2 linked regions of the Homo sapiens genome follow. The protein of the gene in region 1 interacts with the protein of each later gene in a pairwise test. Each region holds a gene or a part of one and is shown on either strand. Other genes may lie near its edges.

What was found.
Region 2: the proteins of TNFRSF10B (region 1) and ASPH interact in binary tests that used the Homo sapiens proteins (3 or more experiments, as listed by UniProt).

The regions. Positions count from the first base shown.
Region 1 is NC_000008.11:23,019,633-23,024,067, forward strand, and holds the end of TNFRSF10B (tumor necrosis factor receptor superfamily member 10B isoform 1 precursor), read right to left. Parts: intron 3,353-4,435; coding exon 3,039-3,352; 3' UTR 501-3,038; downstream 1-500. UniProt on the Homo sapiens protein: Receptor for the cytotoxic ligand TNFSF10/TRAIL. The adapter molecule FADD recruits caspase-8 to the activated receptor.
Region 2 is NC_000008.11:61,501,593-61,508,628, forward strand, and holds part of ASPH (aspartyl/asparaginyl beta-hydroxylase), read right to left. Parts: intron 1,918-7,036; coding exon 1,767-1,917; 3' UTR 1-1,766.

The sequences.
Region 1 (4,435 bases):
CTGAAGCGCTGAGCAACCTGGGTACCCTGGTGGGGATGCAGGGAAGGCCGGGGCAGAGAAAGTGAAGGTCGACCCAGGGCTGTAGGAAGCCATAGGAGAGTGACCACGGGATTCCCTGAGAAACAGGGCCGGCCCCCCAACTTCAGGGACCCACCGCCCATTCCCCGAGAGCTGTCGGAACCAGATGCAACCCGGCAGCCCAGAGAACTCTCCTGGGAGGCTGTGGGTGAGCCAGGCCAACATTGGTGTCCCTGTCCCCAGAGGGAGGAGCAGGCAGGAGAGAGAGGGGAAGGAGGTATGAATCCCAGTCCCCAGGAACCTAGCTCTTTAAACTCTGGGGAGTCGGATTCAGGAAACACCCCCAGGAGGCCAAGCCTGAAAACAGAGGGGAGGGAGGAAGGAAGGAGTCCCAGCAGGAGCACAGCCCTGGTTTCCTGTCACTCAGAGCTGATTCACAGGAGGAGGGGAGGTTGGGGGGCGGGAGACAAAAACCACACCTCTTTTTATATAAGGTTTCATATTTAATTTGGTCATGGATTCATAAATACATAAGTATTTTGTACACAATGTGCTTCCTTGTTTGTATTATAACACATTTCAAATAGGGACCTTTGACAGGGCAGAAGCATGAAAGGACACCAACCACGAGTGACACACTATACTATGGCTGTCCTGTGTCACATGCTATTTGGCCTGGGGATATAGCAAAGCCTAATGTAACTAAACAACAAAACCCCCAATTATTTCATGTCGTCAGGAAGCTTACTTTAAAAGAATAGCTTGGCCTGGCTGGTGGCTCACGCCTGTAATCCCAGCACTTTCGGAGGCCAAGGTGGATCACCTGAGGTCAGGAGTTCGAGACCAGCCTGACCAACATGGTGAAACCCCGTCTCTACTAAAAATACAAAAATTAGCCAGGCGTGGTGGCGGGTGCCTGCAATCCCAGCTACTCCGGAGGCTGAGGCACGAGAATCGCTTGAACCCAGGAGGCGGAGGTTGCACTGAGCCAAGATCGTACCGTTGCACTCCAGCCTGGGCGAGAGAGTGAGATTCTGTCTCAAAAAAATTAAAAATAAAAGAAAAATCTTAAACACTGATAAGGCTGACACTCTAGATGCATCTTCTAGGAAGGCCTCTGTGGAAGGGACAAGGGACCTGGGACCGGACTGGCACCTTCTGAGCCCTGAGGCTGAGCGTCCTGCACAGAAGGCCCAGCAAAGGCAAAGACCAGGAGGCAGCAGCACCCTGTGCCTTCCAGAAGTGCAGGGGACAACGCGTGGGATGCCAGATGGAAGTGGGAGAGGATGGAAGTGCAAAGACCAGAAAGGTCACCCCCCACTCCTAAAACTCCACAGACACAACAGTCTGAATGTGTGATCTTCAGGCAATTCTAACTTTGTCCCACCCAAACCAGTCCCGGAACAAAACACACAATGCCTTGAGACAGAAAAGACCAAAAACTCCTGGAATGACTACCTGCATAAATGATCCTTCCATGACTGAAATACTATGGAGAAGGGTTTGCTGGAAAGAGGCTGAAATGGTTACTGAGGTCTTAAAACAATAATAGAACAGGACACAAGAAGAAAACCTTAATGCGTCAGCCATTCTAGGTCCTGTTGCCACAGTGTTTAAGAATTGACATTTCTGAGATGAGTCAGATGCTTACAGAGCGGCCAAGGTCCTCAAGTAGGCAATCTGTACCCTAAAAGGCAGCTCATGGGCTCAGGGTGACAGATAACCAGAAGTGAGCCGGGCCATCTACTCCTGAGATGGCAACCATTTCACACCATTCTCAAGCACCATCTACTCTTCCCCCTTGATGCCATGGCAGACGTGGGAGACAGATTTTGTCTTCTATCTCCTGAGCCCAAACAGGGCTCAAGTTCACTTGGGATATGACATAGACCCTATTGTTATGTGTGATCTAACCCATCTGCCTCTGTCCCAGCCTGTCCATAGATGGGGGCTATGGGTGCAAATGAGACTGCCCAGGTAGGGACCAGCCACACACAGGACTTCACGTGGATCCAGTTCTCTTTGGTCCCGACTCATATGTAAACAACTACCTATAAATAATACTCATATACTTGTAAGGTTGTCCAGTTCAAAAGACTGGCCCCTGTAGAAGTTGCCAATCATTGAAGCCAAAGTACATCTGAGGGAGGGCTGGAACCCAGACAGTGACATCTTACAGGGGACTTCTTCTTCTTCCCCCATTGTATGTCTCCTCCTTTTATGTTTATCTAATCTATTCACATAACTATGTAAACAAGTACATTTACTAAAGTTTCTTCATGTTCATAAAATAATAACATACAGAATTATAAAAGTAGAAAGGTAAGGCCAAGCATGGGGGCTCACGCCTCTAATTCCACCGCTTTGGGAGTCTGAGGTGGGCAGACTGCTTGAGTCCAGGAATTCGAGACCACCCTGAGCAACATAGAGAGCCCCTATATCTAGACAAAATACAAAAAATTAGCCGGGCGTGGTGGTGCACACCTGTGGTCCCAGCTATTTGGATGGCTGAGGTGGGAGAATCGCTTGAGCCTGAGAGGTCAAGGCTATAGTGAGCCAAGATTGCACCATTGCACTCCAGCCTGGGAGACAGAGTGAACTGCCCCGCACCCCCCACCCAAAAAAGGTTCATATCATATAGTATCAAGTGAAGTCGGACAACGACTGTGTAGATGGATCTTACAATGTAGCCCAAATAAATAAATAAAGCATTTACATTAGGATAAAAAAGTGCTGTGAAAACAATGACATCCCAAACCAAATCTCAAAGTACGCACAAACGGAATGATCCAGACATTTCCATAGTGTCCTTATTATCACATTCAGCTTATAAAAATAATGCCAAGTGCAGTGAAAAGTTACAGGATGTTCCATCCACTGGGTGATGTTGGATGGGAGAGTTTCTTCCAGTACCGGTCATGTGACAATTGTGGCACTTTCCTACTGACTGGAGTCCAGTTGGGCTTTTTCCAGAAAAAAGGTAAACCAGGGAAGGTCTGACTTCCTGAAGAGAATCACACTTAGGACATGGCAGAGTCTGCATTACCTTCTAGATACATGAACTTTCCAGAGCTCAACAAGTGGTCCTCAATCTTCTGCTTGGCAAGTCTCTCTCCCAGCGTCTCCAAGGCATCCAGCAGGGTGTGGACAGAGGCATCTCGCCCGGTTTTGTTGACCCACTTTATCAGCATCGTGTACAAGGTGTCCCTGTGGCCCGCTGCCTCAGCTTTAGCCACCTTTATCTCATTGTCCATGAGGCCCAACTTCCTCATGAGCGGCTCCCAGGAGTCAAAGGGCACCAAGTCTGCAAAGTCATCGAAGCACTGTCTCAGAGCTGGTGGAGAAAGCCACAGAGACAGCCAGGTGAGTTGGGACTCAGAAAGGGCAGAGGATTCCACATCAGGCCCAGAACCCAAGGCGGGGAACCTGGAGAGCCCCGTGTGCGGGCAAACCTGCCGCTCCAGTGCCCACCCGCTTCCCATCCACAGAGAGCGCGCCCACACTGCCTGGCCTCCCCCACACGCAAGGCACTGCGGGGAGTCAAAGTCGTCAGAGAATCAGCCCTCATACAGGGCTGAGAACCCACCAGGGGAGTATGGATGGACGTTACAGAGGCAGAAAGTAAAGTGCGTGAGAGTCCGAGGGAGGGAGAGACAGTGGCTGCAGCGGGAGCTTAGAGGAGGGAGGAGGCTGCCTGGGCTGCGCTTGTCATGGGAGCAGGTCCCAGGGCGGCCACTTCTGCATCTGTGGAAAGCACAGGGCCTGGGACAGGGGACCTCTGTTTTCACCCAGCTCGGCCTCACTTCCTGGGGCTGGGGCAGAGCTAGGTGGAGGCAAACAGACTCTGAGCAAGAAGTGAACCCAAAGACCGAGCAATGCTGCCCAGATCTCGGGACGATGAGGGATTAAATGAGACGTGTGTGCAACATGATGCACCTCGCCGTCCTCAGAGATAGACAGGGTCAGGAACACGAGGCTATGTTTTCCAACAGCCTTATTTTAAAGAACATCAGAAACAAGTGACATTCATTTTAATGTATGGTACTGAATATATTTAAAATATAATTTAATATACAATCAATATACAAAAATTATGAGTGAAATATTTTCCACTCTTTTTTGCATTAAGTCTTTGGCATTCGTATGTAGTTTACACAACAGCTCTGCAAATTGGGCTGAGGCACAGGTCAAGAGCTCCTTAGCCCACTGGGGTTAGTGGTGCTGTGCAGGACAGGCCAGCCCCTCAGGAGGTCCTCAGGGGCAGGCGGGGGCTACATCAGGCCCTGAACAAAGGAGGAGAGAGGATGAGGGGACGGACAGAGTCATTAGGGTCAATGATAGGGTGCAGAGAGGATGAGGTAGAGTGGGGAGAAGAGATGGGAGAAGACAGTTTAGGGTCCAGATGGTCTATAGCACA
Region 2 (7,036 bases), about 38 Mb from region 1:
ATTTCCTCTGTTCAATAAATACTGAAGGTCACAAACACCTTTTTACTTTTCAAGAGTTTGCCTTCTCTTCTCGATTTTAGTAATTAATTTGGATATTTTTCCTCCCATGCCTCTTCATCTGATTTAGTGGGATGTTTTCAATACCAGCAAAACAAAAGAACAGGAAAAGTATTTTGCAAACTCATCTACTGGAAGCTAATCTCCTTAAGGTCAAGCAAAAAGGGTCAATTTCAATTTCAAAGAGCTGTTCTTTAAATGAGATAAAGAAAGTCTCCTTTTGTTTTTAGATGGAAAAGAAAGCACAAGTTTTTTCTACCTGTGAATGAACTTTGGTGACCTATATGTGCCATTCATGCAGCATTTTTGTTCATATTGGCTTAGAATTCAGTGCATGAATATCATTACATTCTTATATCTAACATTCCTAGTTAGCTTTGATTCAAAATATACAAAATCTGATACATGAATACTTTGCTAGATTAATGACTTGATCATCTTTGGAATGAGTAGGCAAGACGATTTTTACCTATTATTTCTATGTTGTGGGTAATGTTAAAACTAAATACAGATGATAATAATTGCTATTTCACAGTGATGTTTAAAATGGCAGAGATTTCTCAAGCCAGAGAGATGGGACAGTCTTCCAAACTCTTTCATCAAAAAGGAAAGTAATCTGGACCTCCTACGCCCAAGAAAAACATCCTGGCATTCTTGGTAACCTTTTACTCTGCCATCCTTAATCTTTCTACAGAATTGTAGCAGAAATCATCTCCAAGACTGAAGAGCTGGCTTCCTGACATTCACATGGATCTACCATAGGCAAAGACACTGTGTTCCCAGCCCTTGCCTCATGGATGGCAAAGCCGCCAGGAGCCAGACACCCTAGCAGCCACCTATCCACCCAACCCTGAAAGAACATAGTTTTATTTCCGTGAACTATACTTTTTCCCCAGAAGCTCTAATAATTGGCATTAAAAAAATTTGCATCTGGGATTTTTATAACAATATAAAATAATTCCATGCTCTTTTTTCGGTGTGAAAAGTTCCTCTTTGAAAGAAATAGGATTTTGTCAATATCTCCACCACTAGCATAGTGAGAAGAGGATCTCAATCAAGATAAAAAAAACCAAACGATTTGAGAGTTGGGATGGGTACAGTTCATAGACACTGACATAATGAGCTCTTTCTTTTTTGTTAGGAAAATAAAACTGCTTTTTTCATGAGTATCTTTTACTAAGAAGAATTAAAAGAGGGAAGTCTGAGTTCCCCAGTAATGCTACCATTAAATAGCTAGAAGTAAAGCATTTATACAGCTTGTCATTAAAATAAACAAAAATGTAGTGGTACATGATGACAAAATAGTCTAGCTACACTAGAAAAATATAACTGCATAGAAAAATTACAAACTAAAGCAATCCATTCACAGTTTCTACATATGTTCTCATTATACATTGAATTAGACCTATTCTATGTGGAAAAAATATCTTTGGCTGGTAAGGTAGAAGCTATCAAATGTTCACCTTAAATACTGGCAGAAGACCAGTGCTGTCATGAGATGACACACAGCAGGGTGTTTCCTAAATGAATTGCAGCGAGGCAAATATTCCCTTTAGTGTCTTCTGACCCTAGGAGGAGGCTTTGAATTACTCGGGCTGCAAGTCAAGGGAATTGACTCTTGGTGTTCGAAATTCTATCCTCACACCCAAGGAGATGGAACCAGAAAGGCAGCCTCTCTCCAGAGTTTCCCAAGCTTGCATGAATTCATGCTAAATTGCTGGAAGGCTGCGTCTCTGCTGTGGTGTCAGTTCCGGATGCCACACATCCACGATGAATATCAGCCGGAAAGATGAGGCATCCTGCCATACCTCGTGCTCAAAGGAGTCATCAAAGATGAGCACCTTGCCTTCCTCCCAGGTCCTGCAGCAGAAAGACAAGGATTCCTGAATATAGTTTTGTGTGGTTCAGATGTCTGAGGATCGATTCCTGTCCATGTGCGAGAACTACCTTTGGTAACAACCTTTGGGACATAACCAAATAACTAGAACATCAAGCCCAAGTTTATTCTTCCCTTGATGATTAGGAAAGAATTTCAGAAATCTTGCTATGAACATCAGTTTTCATTGCTCAGTGCTGGAGATGTACAAACAACAGAGGATTTGTGATGAAGACATATTGGTCTCATTACATGCCTTGCAATTATTCTGTATATTATTACATGTCTTGCAATTATTCTGGTTTAGACATATGGGCAGTGACTGGGTCTCAGGCATCTCTATGCCTCTCAAGACACTTCCAATCAATTGTCTTTTCAGCTCACTCCACTTGTTCAAGTTTCATTTTATGGAAGAAAGGAATCTGCTTAAACACAGTACCATAAAGCAGAAAACTAAATTAGGAGTTTCCTAGCTAGTATTCCAGCTGAAGAAAATGGGCAGATTGGGAATAAATTTTGTTTATATTTTTAGTATCATCTTCTATGCAAGTGGGTTATCCATGGGATATTTTAAATCAATGCTGCAAAACACCCTATAGAGCTTCCAACTTTACCTCATAAGATATCTGTATAGGGACTGCGATCTAAATATAGTGTTAGTCTATTAAGAGAGAAACATACAGGAGGCAGTAACACAATGCTTTTCAAATCCAAAGAGAGTTTATGAGGGACACTGATGGTTCCTTATTTTAAAAATAGATATTAACTGCCAATATATTAAATACCAAGTTATGTTTTTAAAATAAAATTTTTGCTAGAAAATTTTCCTTAGATACTAAAATGCCACTTAAGCCTTCAAAATTTTACATCCTGGATTAGCAAATAATGACTATTATAGCATGGGAAATGCTAGCTTGATTTCAAGTTACTATATTATCATAAAGAGGTTTTCTGTGCGAAAACTAGTGGTGAATTTTTATGTTCCATATCAGGTGATTAACTAATATAAACTGAGCAATACTACATATATTGCAGGGCTTCACAACCGTGGTACTACTGACATCTAGGCTGGATCATTCTCTGTTGTAGGGGCTGTTCCATGCACTATGAGATATTTAGCGGCACCCCTGACCTCCACCCACTGTATGGCAGTAGCATTCCCTATACCATGAGGTTGGTGCAAAAGTAATTGTAGTTTTTGCCATAGTTGTGACAACCAGAAACATCTCTAGTCATTGCCAAATGTCCAGGGTGGGAGCAGGAGCAAAAATCATTCCAGTGGAAAATAACTGACATACTGAATAAGTCTGATAATAAAATTTCCAAGTTATGTAAACTAACAGATAAAGTACTGAGTATTTGCAAGTTGAAAGTTCACTGAAGTTGGGAACTGAACCTCTACTTCTACTACCCACCCTCCCACCTCCACCCAGTGTGCTATCTCATACACTTCGTGATATGGTTTGGATGTGTCCCCACCCAAATCTCATCTTGAATTGTACTCCCATAATTCCCACATGCTGTGGGAAGGACCCGATGAGAGATAATTTGAATCATGGGGGCAGCTTCCCCCATACTGTCCTCATCATAGTGAATAAGTATCATGAGATCTGATGGTTTCATCAGGGGTTCCCGCTTTTGCATCTTCCTTATTTTCTCTTGCCGCCACCAGGTAAGAAGTGCCTTTCAGCTGGATGCGGTGGCTCACGCCTGTAATCTCAGCACTTTGGGAGGCTGAGGACAGTGGATCACAAGGTCAGGGGTTCGAGGCCAGCCTGGCCAACATGGTGAAACCCCCATCTCCACTAAAAATACAAAAATTAGCCAGGCGTGGTAGCGCATGCCTGTAATCCCAGCTACTCAGGAGGCTGAGGCAGGAAATTGCTTGAACCTGGGAGGCAGAGGTTGCAGTGAGCTGAGATCATGCCACTGTGCTCCAGACTGAGTGACAGAGCAAGACTCCATCTCAAAAAAAAAAAAAAAAAAAAAGAAGTGCCTTTTGCCTCCCACCATGATTCTGAGTCCTCCCCAGCCATGTGGAACTGTAAGTGCAATTAAACTTCTTTTTCTTCTCAGTCTCAGGTATGTCTTTATCAGCTGCATGAAAACGGACTAATACACCTTGCCTCATCTCTTGCATTCAACACACACATGTTGATTGGCTCTTCTACAACTCCTCTGAAGGTTTTTAGAGTTCCATTGGAGTTCCATCAAGGGTAGCAAAAGACAGAAATCTATGGACTTAGGAGAAAATGACAGAATATGCATTCATTACCATGCAAAATCTAACTTGAGAAGAAAGGCAAAACCAAGGCGGGGAAATACGCTGACAAGAAAAATCAGTGAAACAGTCCACAGCTTCCACAGTTAGGCAGGCATTTTCTAGGTCTCAGTGTTGTCACCGGGATTAAGCAATGTCAGTGGGTACCACAAACGAGCCTATAATTTATGTAGAAGATGAGGGAGGAAGTGTACTCAAAATGAAAGGCAGTGCACCTATGTTCACAGCAGCACTATTCACAACAGCTAGAAGGTGAGAGCCACCCACGTATCTATCAGTGAATGAACAGACAAACAAAATGTGGTATACACATACAATGGAATATTAATTCAGCCTTAAAAAGGAAGGAAATTTTGACACATGCTACAACATGTATGAACTCAGAGGACATTATGTCAAGTAAAATAAGCCAGACACAAAAAGATAATTACTAGTTGATTCTACACATCTGAGGTCCTAGACTAGTAGTTAAATTCACAGAGAGAGAAAGGAGAAGAGTGGTTGCCAGTGGCCGGTGGGAGGACGGGAATGGGAGTTATTTAATGGGTATAGTTTCAGTTTTGCAAGTTAGAAAGAGTTTTGAGGATAGATCATGTTGATGGTTATACAATATGGATGTACTTAATGTCACTAAACTGCACACCTAAAAATGGATAATATGGTAAATTTTGTTATGTGTATTTTACTACAATTAAATAGAGAAAAAAGGGAAAGGCAAAGGAGAGCATGTGGTAGAGGAGAAAGAAAGAAGCAATACAGGAAGATGGAAATTTATGGTCTTTGAGGGGAATCCTCTTGACCTTGGCATTTATTACTTATGGGACCTAAGGTGAGCTACTTAGCATAATTGATTCTTTGTGTCTTCATCGGCATAATTGATGTGAGGATTAGCATATGATTGGCAATAGTAGATATTCAATTAATGACAGAAAAATGAAAATATAAAGAAAAATAGGGAAAAGATAAAAGACAGAGGTGAAATGTTGGGAAGTGGTATGTTATCAAAAATGACATATGCATCACTCTTTATGATGTTGTCTGCCTTCCTTTGAGACAACTAAAAACTTCCAAGGGAGATGAGATATAAAAACATCTTCAGAGCATCTGTGAAATGTAGTTTGTACAGCAATGACAAGTGATTTTCAAAGTTTTTTGGGTGGCAGAGAACCTGGAAACTACTTAAAACACTAGAAGTAATTAAAATAACTGAATAGAAAATTCTAGCCCACACAAAATGACATTTTTCACTAGATTATGATACGTATAACAAAGCCAAAGATCTAGAATTGTTTTCTGGGAAAAAGGCCTTAAGCATTCCATTCATTAAATTAAATTCCTGAGAACTGGGAAAAGTTATTAGCACCGGAACACGCTGGTCACTCATGGAACATCAGTGCATATAAAAGTAGAACTTAAGAACCACAGGCTTGCAGCTTTCCAGATACATTAAGTACAATACAGATCAGTGTAAACCATTAATTAACCAATTGTATAAATAAGAAATTTGGGGAGGTATACCAAAGGGTTGTTAATTGGCCTGTTTCAGGGTCATAAAACTCTATGGGGAAAGTGAGTGCTGTCGGACTTATTTGCCCTTCCACTTTCTTTCATACATTTCCCCAGAAAATAGCAAAGATAGTCAATAACATAATGTAGATTTTTTAATGTAGATTTCTTCTGAATTCTTAAAAAAATGGTGTCTTTCAATCAGTTATTAGAGATAGAATGACTAAAACTGTAGTCACGATTCACCTAAAAGGGGAAAATGAAGAACAATAAAACATCCTACAAGCCATGTCCAGACTTAAGTGACTCCAGGTTAAATTCGAGATGTATCACATGCTTGGGAAAGGATGTTTTTTTTCCACAACAAAGGGAGAGGAGCATAAAGATGTCAAATCGCTTCTGACTGAAAACCAAAGACTCTCATTAGAATGCAAAGAACTAGTTTTCAGGCCACTTGCTTTGTGAACAAAGCTCCATCAAATAAGATTAAGTTACACTCGAATTACGACATACAATCAGCCCTTTGGAGAAACAATCTTCAGAGCGGCCTGTGACAGAGGTCTGCCTGGAAGTACTGTTACAGCCTTGTCTAAGGACCCAGAGAAGCAGCATTGGGGGTGGGCACTGCTCTCCATCCCTGGAAGCTTGGCTCACTGTTGGAACTTCCTCCTTCCCTTCCTCTCTCTCTTTCTCTCCTCCCACCTAACCCTTTATTTTTTTCAAGACAGGATTTGCTCTGTCACCCAGGCTGGAGTGTGGTGGCACCATCACAGCTCAATGCAGCCTCCGCCTCCCAGGCTCAGGTGATCCTCCCACCTCAGTCTCCCGAGTACCTAGGACTACAGGTATGTGCCACCACATCCAGCTAATTTTTGGATTTTTTTGTAGAGATGGGGTTTCCCCATGTTGCCCAGGCTGCTCTCCAACTCCTGGGCTCAAACAATTCTCCTGCTTTGGCCTCTCAAAGAGTTGGGATTACAGGTGTGAGCCACTGTTCCTGGCCTTCTGTTAGAATTTCTTACCACTAAGAGAAGAAAGTCTCTCTCTGGGTTGTCAAAAGATATAAGAATATCTCGTCCTAAGATAAAACAGTATTCCATAATCTGTCAACTTCTCAAATTATTATAATTATAAATAATGATAATGATAAAATGGTGGCAGTGCATATTTAATAACTATAATTTGGTCACAGAATTACCATTGATATTAATAAGGCTAAGTAATGATACTAGGTGCTTATAGAGTCTTCTACCTACAAATTTTATAGATAATATCTTAGCTATCTTTGCTAAAATGTTCTGAGATAGGCAAAGGAC